Linked DNA regions of Homo sapiens: region 2 is reported to be linked to region 1. The links are microRNA targets in miRTarBase. Many come from high-throughput screens and were not tested one by one. Region 1 holds a microRNA gene; the other region holds the end of a gene's coding sequence.

Region 1 (4,385 bases):
CCCTCCTTTTTTCACTTGGTGAGGCCTCACACACTGTACCTGCCCACGCAAAGTGTCACTAGAAGGAAGGGAAAGGGTAGTAGGATTCGTTTGCCTGTCTGGAGGTAGGATTGGTCTTTGTAGCTATTCCAGGTATGTCCATAAGTTTACCTAGGAATAGGGGAGCTGCCTGGGTGGAGAGGGATTTTTCTAGTTATGCATTTACATTCTTTTATCTGTCACTGGGTGTAATTATAAATTTGTGTCTATGTGTGAACATGTTAGTCTTTGTATGACTGTGTGTCTGTTGGCATTAGTGACACGAACTTTTAATCTTGCCATTTGGCCCTTGGGTATATGGCTGTGAGTGTTCTGTCACAATCACCATATATGCTGTGTGCTGTGTTCGTATATATATATGCAATACATACCAGTGTCAGCGTAATGGAGTGGTTAGGAACACAGGCGGCTTAGATTTAACCTAGAAACTGCTGTTTAGGAGCTGTATGACCTCAGGTAAGTTATTTAGCCTCCCTGGGCCTATTTCCTATAAAATGTAAATAGTAATAGTACTTTCTAGACTATCATATGCATCATTTTAAGAGTTTAACTTAATGTATAGACCAGTACTGTTCTACAGAAATATAATGCAAGCCACAATGTAATTTTTTTATGGTAGCCACATTTTTACAAGGCAAAAAGAGTGAAATTAATTTTAGTAATATATTTTCTTGAATCTGATAACATCCAAAAGATTATAATTTCTTTTTTTTTTTTTGGAAATGGAGTCTCACTCCATTGCCCAGGCTAGAGTGCAGTGGCGTGATCTTGGCTCACTGCAACCTCCGCCTCCCGGATTCAAGCGATTCTCCTGCCTCAGCCTCCCGAGTAGCTGGGATTAAAGGCATGCGCCAACAGGCCCGGCTAATTTTTGTATTTTTAGTAGAGACGGGGTTTCACCATGTTGGTCAGGCTGGTCCTGAACTCCTGACCTCGTGATCTGCCCACCTCGGCTTCCCAAAGTGCTGGGATTACAGGCGTGAGCCACTGCGCCCGGCCCAAGATTATAATTTCAAAATGTAGTCAGCATAAAAGATTAGTAATGGATATCTCACATTTTGTTTTTTATTCAGTCTTTGAAATCTGATGTGTATTTTACATTTCCAGCACATCTCAGTTCAGACTAGCTGCATTTCAAGTAGCCACATGTAGGTGGTGGCTACTTTCTCGGACAGCACAAGTATAGACCATTATAAGACCCTTACCAGCTACAAGTGTTAGCTATTATTCTTGTTGTCATTTATTATCAGGTATCTGTGAATTGTAGATGTCTGTGTCTTGTGTCTCTTGTCTGAATATATCCGGAGCCTTTGGGAAGAGTGGTGGGAGAGCAGTCCTGAGCTCTTTCTCCACCACCCTCATCCTAGAGAGCCTTCCTGGGAAGGTTTCAATGAGACCCCTGCCCCAGTTTGTGTCTCAGGCCCTTGTCCTCATAGCACCAGCCCCCAGCCCTGCCTTCTGTGCCTTGCCTACCCCACTCTCCTCCAGAAACCAGGCTGATTGTCCCTTGCCCCATCCCCTGCAGGTGGCCAGAATGGATTTGTGGCCAGGGGCATGGATGCTGCTGCTGCTGCTCTTCCTGCTGCTGCTCTTCCTGCTGCCCACCCTGTGGTTCTGCAGCCCCAGTGCCAAGTACTTCTTCAAGATGGCCTTCTACAATGGCTGGATCCTCTTCCTGGCTGTGCTCGCCATCCCTGTGTGTGCCGTGCGAGGACGCAACGTCGAGAACATGAAGTGAGGGGCAAGGGGTCTTGGGCAATGAGGGAACCTAAGGGTACAAAGTGAGTAGTGGATTGGGGGAAGGGGGCATGGTGTGTGTAGAAAAGACTGAGAGAGACCAGAGACAGGGAATGGGGAGAGGACTGCAAAGGTGGTCAGAAAGACAGTAAGGTGGGGGGAGCTGAGGCATGCAGATGGACATCAATGGATCCCACTGGGACCCCTTGCCATGACCCCACAGGATCTTGCGTCTAATGCTGCTCCACATCAAATACCTGTACGGGATCCGAGTGGAGGTGCGAGGGGCTCACCACTTCCCTCCCTCGCAGCCCTATGTTGTTGTCTCCAACCACCAGAGCTCTCTCGATCTGCTTGGTGAGACCCCACCACAGGGCACACCTCCCCCAGCCATGCCTCCCCTCCTGAAACCTTCCCTAGAATATCTTCTCCTAGAGATCCTCAATTCCCCTTCCTCTGGGACATTGCCCCCTTGCCTCCCACTCAGGCCTTCATTCCCTGGGTAGAACTGCCCTCATAAGCAGGTTACATATACTTTTGGTCACCCTTTCCTTCACTTGGGGCCCCCCTCCCTGCCTAGTCTCCTCCTTCACCTCCAGTCCCTACCAGAGGGTGATGAGCTGGGTGAGGTGGGTTGCCTTCTGTGACACTCTGCCTCCACCCCGATCCTCACCCACTCCCACCCTGCCCAAGGGATGATGGAGGTACTGCCAGGCCGCTGTGTGCCCATTGCCAAGCGCGAGCTACTGTGGGCTGGCTCTGCCGGGCTGGCCTGCTGGCTGGCAGGAGTCATCTTCATCGACCGGAAGCGCACGGGGGATGCCATCAGTGTCATGTCTGAGGTCGCCCAGACCCTGCTCACCCAGGACGTGAGTCATCCTGGGGAAATGGGGGATTGGAGGGATACAGAGTAGAACAGTTGTAAATAAACTGATATGCAGGGCCAGTGGGCCTCAAAGGTCCCATTATAACATCACACCTATTCTGACTCCTCCATATGTATTTGTCTTCTTTGACCCTCTTTCTCCCCCAGGTGAGGGTCTGGGTGTTTCCTGAGGGAACGAGAAACCACAATGGCTCCATGCTGCCCTTCAAACGTGGCGCCTTCCATCTTGCAGTGCAGGCCCAGGTGACTACTGCTCTTCGTTCTGCTACTCAGCTGCCAACCCCCACCATTCCCTCATCTCTGGGCAGGGGCTTATTGTAGGAGTCTCTGAAGAGAGCTGTGGACTGACCTGCTTTAACCCTTCCCCAGGTTCCCATTGTCCCCATAGTCATGTCCTCCTACCAAGACTTCTACTGCAAGAAGGAGCGTCGCTTCACCTCGGGTGAGGGCTTTGAGCAGTTCTGGGGTAGGGTGTGTCCGGAGAGGCTGGGAGGACATCCCTGTGAGGCAGGGGGATCATTCAGTGTCAGAGCCATGAGATGTCTACACAGTCATCTAGTCTAACCCCACATCAGCCAATAAGTCTTTACTAAGCACCCACCATACCCTGCCAGATGGGTAGCACTTGGTCCCACCAAGAGAGGCTGTTACTAATCTTAACAGGAAAGATAAGGCCTGTGTGCACAAAGCTGTAATGAATAACACTCATTCAGCAGTAAATGCCAAACCCAGAGGAGGGGGGCTGGAGGGGTGCTGAGGAGATGTCTGAACTGGGGATTGGAGAAGGCTTTGTATAGGAGAAGGGCCTCAGAAGTGGCAGCTGGCAAGCCCAGGGATGGTTGTCCAGGGTTGGGGGAAGAGAACTGAAAGGTTGAGGAAGAGTATCACTCGGAAGCTGGGCCCCACCTGTGGGCAAAGACCTGGGTGGACAGGCCATGATGGTGCTCCCCTTGCCCCAGGACAATGTCAGGTGCGGGTGCTGCCCCCAGTGCCCACGGAAGGGCTGACACCAGATGACGTCCCAGCTCTGGCTGACAGAGTCCGGCACTCCATGCTCACTGTTTTCCGGGAAATCTCCACTGATGGCCGGGGTGGTGGTGACTATCTGAAGAAGCCTGGGGGCGGTGGGTGAACCCTGGCTCTGAGCTCTCCTCCCATCTGTCCCCATCTTCCTCCCCACACCTACCCACCCAGTGGGCCCTGAAGCAGGGCCAAACCCTCTTCCTTGTCTCCCCTCTCCCCACTTATTCTCCTCTTTGGAATCTTCAACTTCTGAAGTGAATGTGGATACAGCGCCACTCCTGCCCCCTCTTGGCCCCATCCATGGACTCTTGCCTCGGTGCAGTCTCCACTCTTGACCCCCACCTCCTACTGTCTTGTCTGTGGGACAGTTGCCTCCCCCTCATCTCCAGTGACTCAGCCTACACAAGGGAGGGGAACATTCCATCCCCAGTGGAGTCTCTTCCTATGTGGTCTTCTCTACCCCTCTACCCCACATTGGCCAGTGGACTCATCCATTCTTTGGAACAAATCCCCCCCACTCCAAAGTCCATGGATTCAATGGACTCATCCATTTGTGAGGAGGACTTCTCGCCCTCTGGCTGGAAGCTGATACCTGAAGCACTCCCAGGCTCATCATGGGAGCTTTCCTCAGCACCTTCACCTTCCCTCCCAGTGTAGCCTCCTGTCAGTGGGGGCTGGACCCTTCTAATTCAGAGGTCTC
Region 2 (4,385 bases), not on the chromosome of region 1:
GCTAGTTCCTGCCCGAGTCTCGGGCTCCCGGTGATTCAACATGAGGGTGGACAATGGGATCTGCCCGTCCCCGCTGCTCGAGCGCTCTCGGAGTCTAGGCTTGCTTTCTGCTCCAGTGCCTTGAGCTCTTCCCACTGTCAGTCATCGCTTCTCGTGGCTTCCTGATTCCAAGTGTGTGTTGCTTGTGCCCGATGCGGGGAGGCTGGGGTGGAGACTCCAGCTGCCGGCATATGGTGGGGGTAGTGCCACACAAAACGTGGCACCTTTATTTTATTTTTGTTCTCTCCTCACTGTCTCACTAAAGGAAGAGAAGAAACCACCCCCTCCGGTCCCAAAGAAGCCAGCCAAATCCAAGCCGGCAGTGAGCCGCGACAAGGCCTCAGACGCCAGCGACAAGCAGCGCCAGGAGGCCCGCAAGAGACTCCTGGCGGCCAAGCGGGCAGCTTCTGTGCGGCAGAACTCAGCCACCGAGAGCGCAGACAGCATCGAGATTTATGTCCCGGAGGCCCAGACCAGGCTCTGAGACCATGCAGGAGGAAAGAAACGATTTTAAATCATTAAAAACACAAAAACTAAGTGCGAACGGAACAGAGTTTTCTCAACCTTTGCTATGGTTATTCTGTCTAGAGACCCTGAGCCAACTTTCAAATTGACGCATACAAGGGCTCACAATTTGGCTTTTTTGGGTCCCTCCCAGCTTTAGGTTATGAAGATTTTACTCACAAAAAAAATCAACAAAAATCACGAAACTAGAAAACTTTTTTTTTCCTCTTGCTGGCCGTGGTGGACTAGATAGATGGACGTCGGCAACTCCCGGCCCAGCCTCCATACTGCGGTCTTTTTACTCGTTCTATCTGATGAGAACTCACACTAGCTTGTTTACAAGATGACGACAGTCCAAGGGCAGCCTTGGGCACCTGCCATGTCCCTCCTTTCCCCAGCTATCCCCGCTCTGACCTTGATTTTCATTCTTATGTTTTTCTCTTTTCCCTTCAGAGCTCACACAGTGGTCACCATTGTGGCAAGCGGCTTTCTGGGTCTCAGCCCTCTCTGCGGTTGAGGGCCCAGAGGACAGAGAGATGGACATGCGTCCCCTCCCTCCCCCCGCCAAGTGCTCACACACAACCTCACGCGCACACACACACACGCAGATGGAGGCGCCTCACTGGGAGGTGCCCCGCCAGCCCTGGGCAGTGTCAGGCAGGACTCACTCACCGCTGAGCAGATGAGGGAAGTTTTAGTCTTGGCGGGTGGAAATGAGACGAAGCCACAGTTATCACACTCCAGACTCCTGCCCTTTTATTTTCTCCAGCCCCTTCTTCCTTCAGCAAAATCTAGGACTCCCGAGTGGCTTCCAGGGGGCCGTCAGTCCTCAGCCGCGCCTGTGTCCGGTGCCCGAGGGGCGGGCGGCGGTGTCTGTATGTATGTGTACATATGCACATAGACCTTAGAGTGTATAGTTAACAAACGCCCATCTGCTCACCCATGCCCACCCAGCGCCGCCGCCGCTGGCTCTCGGGGCACCTGGCAGGAGGCGGGTGTGTGAATAGCATATATTTTTACATGTACTATATCTAGGTGTGTGTACAAGTGTGTGTAAAAATATATACCTTGTGTGTAAGCAGCCCTTTTTTTTTTTGGTCTCCACCCCCCTCCCCCCGCCCCGCACTCCTAAGGGCCCATCTGCCCAGCCTCTGAGTTTTCTGTTCTATTTTTTTTTTAACCCCAATTATCCTTCTCTCTCTCCTGCCCCCGCATCCCACTCCCAGGGTGTCACGAGCCCTGAGCTGCAATGGCCCGGGCCTGCAGGGCGGGGTAGGGGAGGGCAGGGGCTGAGCCCCGAAGCCAGCTCAGTACCTGAGGGGCTGCTCTATGCTGTGTATGCGCCTCTCTGGCATCCGAGACATCCTCTTGGCTGGCGCTTGCTGCAGGGGGGGACCCCCCCCCGTCCCCAGGTGAACCAAGGGTCTGCTCCGGGGCCCATTTCCAGCTTGGCCGCCGTCTGTGACCTTGGGCAAGTCACTTGACCTCTGTGTGCCTCAACTTCCTCCTCTGTAAAACGGGGACAGTCCCTGCCCCTCCCTACCTCACAGGCATGTTGTGAGAATAAATGAGGTAACGTGTACCAAGGGCTTGTGGCATTATTGCAGGGGGATGAGCAGAGTGGGCCCAGGAAACTGAACCAGACCCCTCCCAAAAGGCAGCTCTGTGGAGACAGCCTGATGGGAGTGCCAGCCGGGATGCCAGCTGTCACATGCCAGCTCTGTGATCTGGGGCGGGAAGATGGAGCTGACCGTCCCCTCTCCCGAAAATCAGTGTGCAGCACTTACCAGCTTCCTGTTTGAAATAAACCCTTGAAAGATAGATGCTATCACAGGAGCCAGGATAGGCTGATAAAGACGACCCTAGAGGACAGTTTACACCCCCCACAGATCCACAGTCTGCACATTCTCCAGGGTGGGGTACTCGGTATCCCCCTGCCTGGCAGCTGCTTCCACTCTGTCAGGTGCGAGCCCTGAGTGCATCTCCAGAGCACCTCCTCTACAGGCCCAGTGCTGGGGCAGAGCTCGCTCTGGTGAGGGAGACAGATATTGAACGTGACAGATAAGGTCAAGTCAATGACAGGTGGTAAAAAACAAGACGCAGCAGAATGAGGCTGCAGGACCCCGCAGCGCGACCACCAAACCCAGCCTGGGCAGGAGTGTTCTGGTAGAGACCAGAAGGATGAGTGGGTAGCCAGCTTTCAGGGAGGGAGCGGCACGCAGTCCTGGCAGAAGCAGGAGGTGCCAAGCCCCAGTGGTAGGAACATACCTTTTCCTTTTTTTTTTTTTTTTTTTTTTTTGAGACAGTCTTGCTCTGTCACCCAGACTGGAGTGCAGTGGCGCGATCTTGGCTCACTGCAACCTACGCCTCCTGGGTTCTAGCAATTCTCCTGCCTCAGCCTCCCGAGGCTGCCATTATGCCCGGCTAATTTTTGTATTTTTAGTAGAGATGGGGGTTTCACCACGTTGGCCAGGCTGGTCTTGAACTCCTGACCTCAGGATCAGCCCCCATTGGCCTCCCAAAGTGCTGGGATTACAGGCGTGAGCCACCGCACCCGGCCGGAACATGCCTTTTAGAAAGTTCTCTGGCCAGGCTCTGGAGCCACAGACTCCTGGTCTCCTCCCTTGGCCCAAGCCAGCCAAGAAGCTCGTGATCTCAGGCCCAGGGGATGCACGGACCCTGCCTTCCCAGCAGCTTTGTTCAGGCTACCTCGCCCACCCCAGCGAGCCCCCTGGGAGCCCATCCGAACTGTGGCCAGACCCCTGTGCTTGGAGCAGCCCTTGACCCCGGATCCCAACACACCTGTTAGTGGTGACAGAGCATCTGGTGACCACAGGTGGCTTGGATTAACTCCAGGGCTGGCACCTTCCCAGACCTACCCCTACCCTGAGACCCAGCTGGGGGTGACTTGAAGGGTAAGTGAAGAGGTTTCCAGTTGCATCAGGCATTGAAGCAGACGTTCAGGGGTGCAGCTAGCAGCCGGCTCTCCCGGATGGGCCATGGGGATTGGGGATGGACCCTTAGCCTTCCTGCTTCTGCTGTGGCAGGGGAAGGGACTTGAGGGTTAGATTAGGGTCTCAGGAGGGATCCTGCACTCTATTAAGCACAAGATGGGGTAGGGGTGTCTGATGTACAGAATCTGGACCCCCACGCCCAGCCCTCCTGGCACAGCAGTGGAGAAGACGCCACCTCCATTGAAGGGACAGTATAATAATGAACACATATCTCGCGGCCAGAGTCACCGATTACTGATATTTCACCCATATGAGCATTATCCCTCTCGGATACATACACATCGTTTTCCCCGCGAGCCATCTGAGAGTCAGTGGCATACACTGATACTTCACCCCAAAACACATCATGCAATTCCCAGGCACGAGGACGTTCCTGCACAACCACAATACCATCACCACCCTCAAACTTAAGAAAGGAATGTTCCAGGGAGCACCTCCTTTTATATGAATATGGCCTAAAGCACAGCCCATACGCCAGGTGCCCTCACAACCTTGTCCCTTATACCTTCTCCCTTTTATCCATCCAGGGTCCCATTAAGGATCAGTCACTGCTTTCAGTTACCATGTCTGTCTGGTTTTGTTTTGTTTTGTTTTTTCTTTTCTTTTTTAGACAGGGTGTCACTCTGCTGCCCAGGCTGAAGTGCAAAGAATGGTGTGATCACGGCTCACTGCAGCCTCAACCAACTGGGCTCAATCAATCCTCCTGCCTCAGCCTCCCAAGTAGCTGGGACCACAGGTACATGCCACCATGCCCAGCTAATTTTAAAATTTTTTGTAGAGATGGAGTCTCACTTTGTTGCCCAGGCTGGTCTCAAACTCGTGGGCTCA

Evidence for each region. Region 1 holds the annotated microRNA hsa-miR-6721-5p (UGGGCAGGGGCUUAUUGUAGGAG, at 2,964-2,986, shown strand). A microRNA usually pairs through its seed, bases 2 to 8, with sites in the 3' UTR of a target mRNA and lowers its output. Matches are read on the target gene's strand: a 7mer-m8 pairs with bases 2 to 8, a 7mer-A1 pairs with bases 2 to 7 and ends in A, and an 8mer does both.
Region 2: the mRNA of DLGAP4 is a reported target of hsa-miR-6721-5p. Seed matches in the 3' UTR shown: 7mer-m8 at 1,291-1,297, 7mer-A1 at 1,684-1,690, 7mer-m8 at 1,746-1,752 and 7mer-m8 at 2,072-2,078.

The regions. Positions count from the first base shown.
Region 1 is chr6:32,168,685-32,173,069 of GRCh38, reverse strand. It overlaps MIR6721 (microRNA 6721), which reads left to right and starts at 2,954; the gene lies at 2,954-3,040. AGPAT1 (1-acylglycerol-3-phosphate O-acyltransferase 1) reads left to right here. Exons shown (of 7, transcript NM_006411.4): 2 at 1,565-1,773; 3 at 2,000-2,133; 4 at 2,470-2,645; 5 at 2,810-2,905; 6 at 3,032-3,104; 7 at 3,622-4,385. The coding sequence starts at 1,574. The coding sequence ends at 3,794. RefSeq lists an enhancer at 2,572-3,771.
Region 2 is chr20:36,526,509-36,530,893 of GRCh38, forward strand. It overlaps DLGAP4 (DLG associated protein 4), which reads left to right. Exons shown (of 13, transcript NM_001365621.2): 13 at 305-2,125. The coding sequence ends at 523. The region is part of intron 2 of DLGAP4-AS1 (DLGAP4 antisense RNA 1); the gene reads right to left. Among named protein-coding and RNA genes, the nearest start is that of MYL9, 13 kb to the right of the region's middle.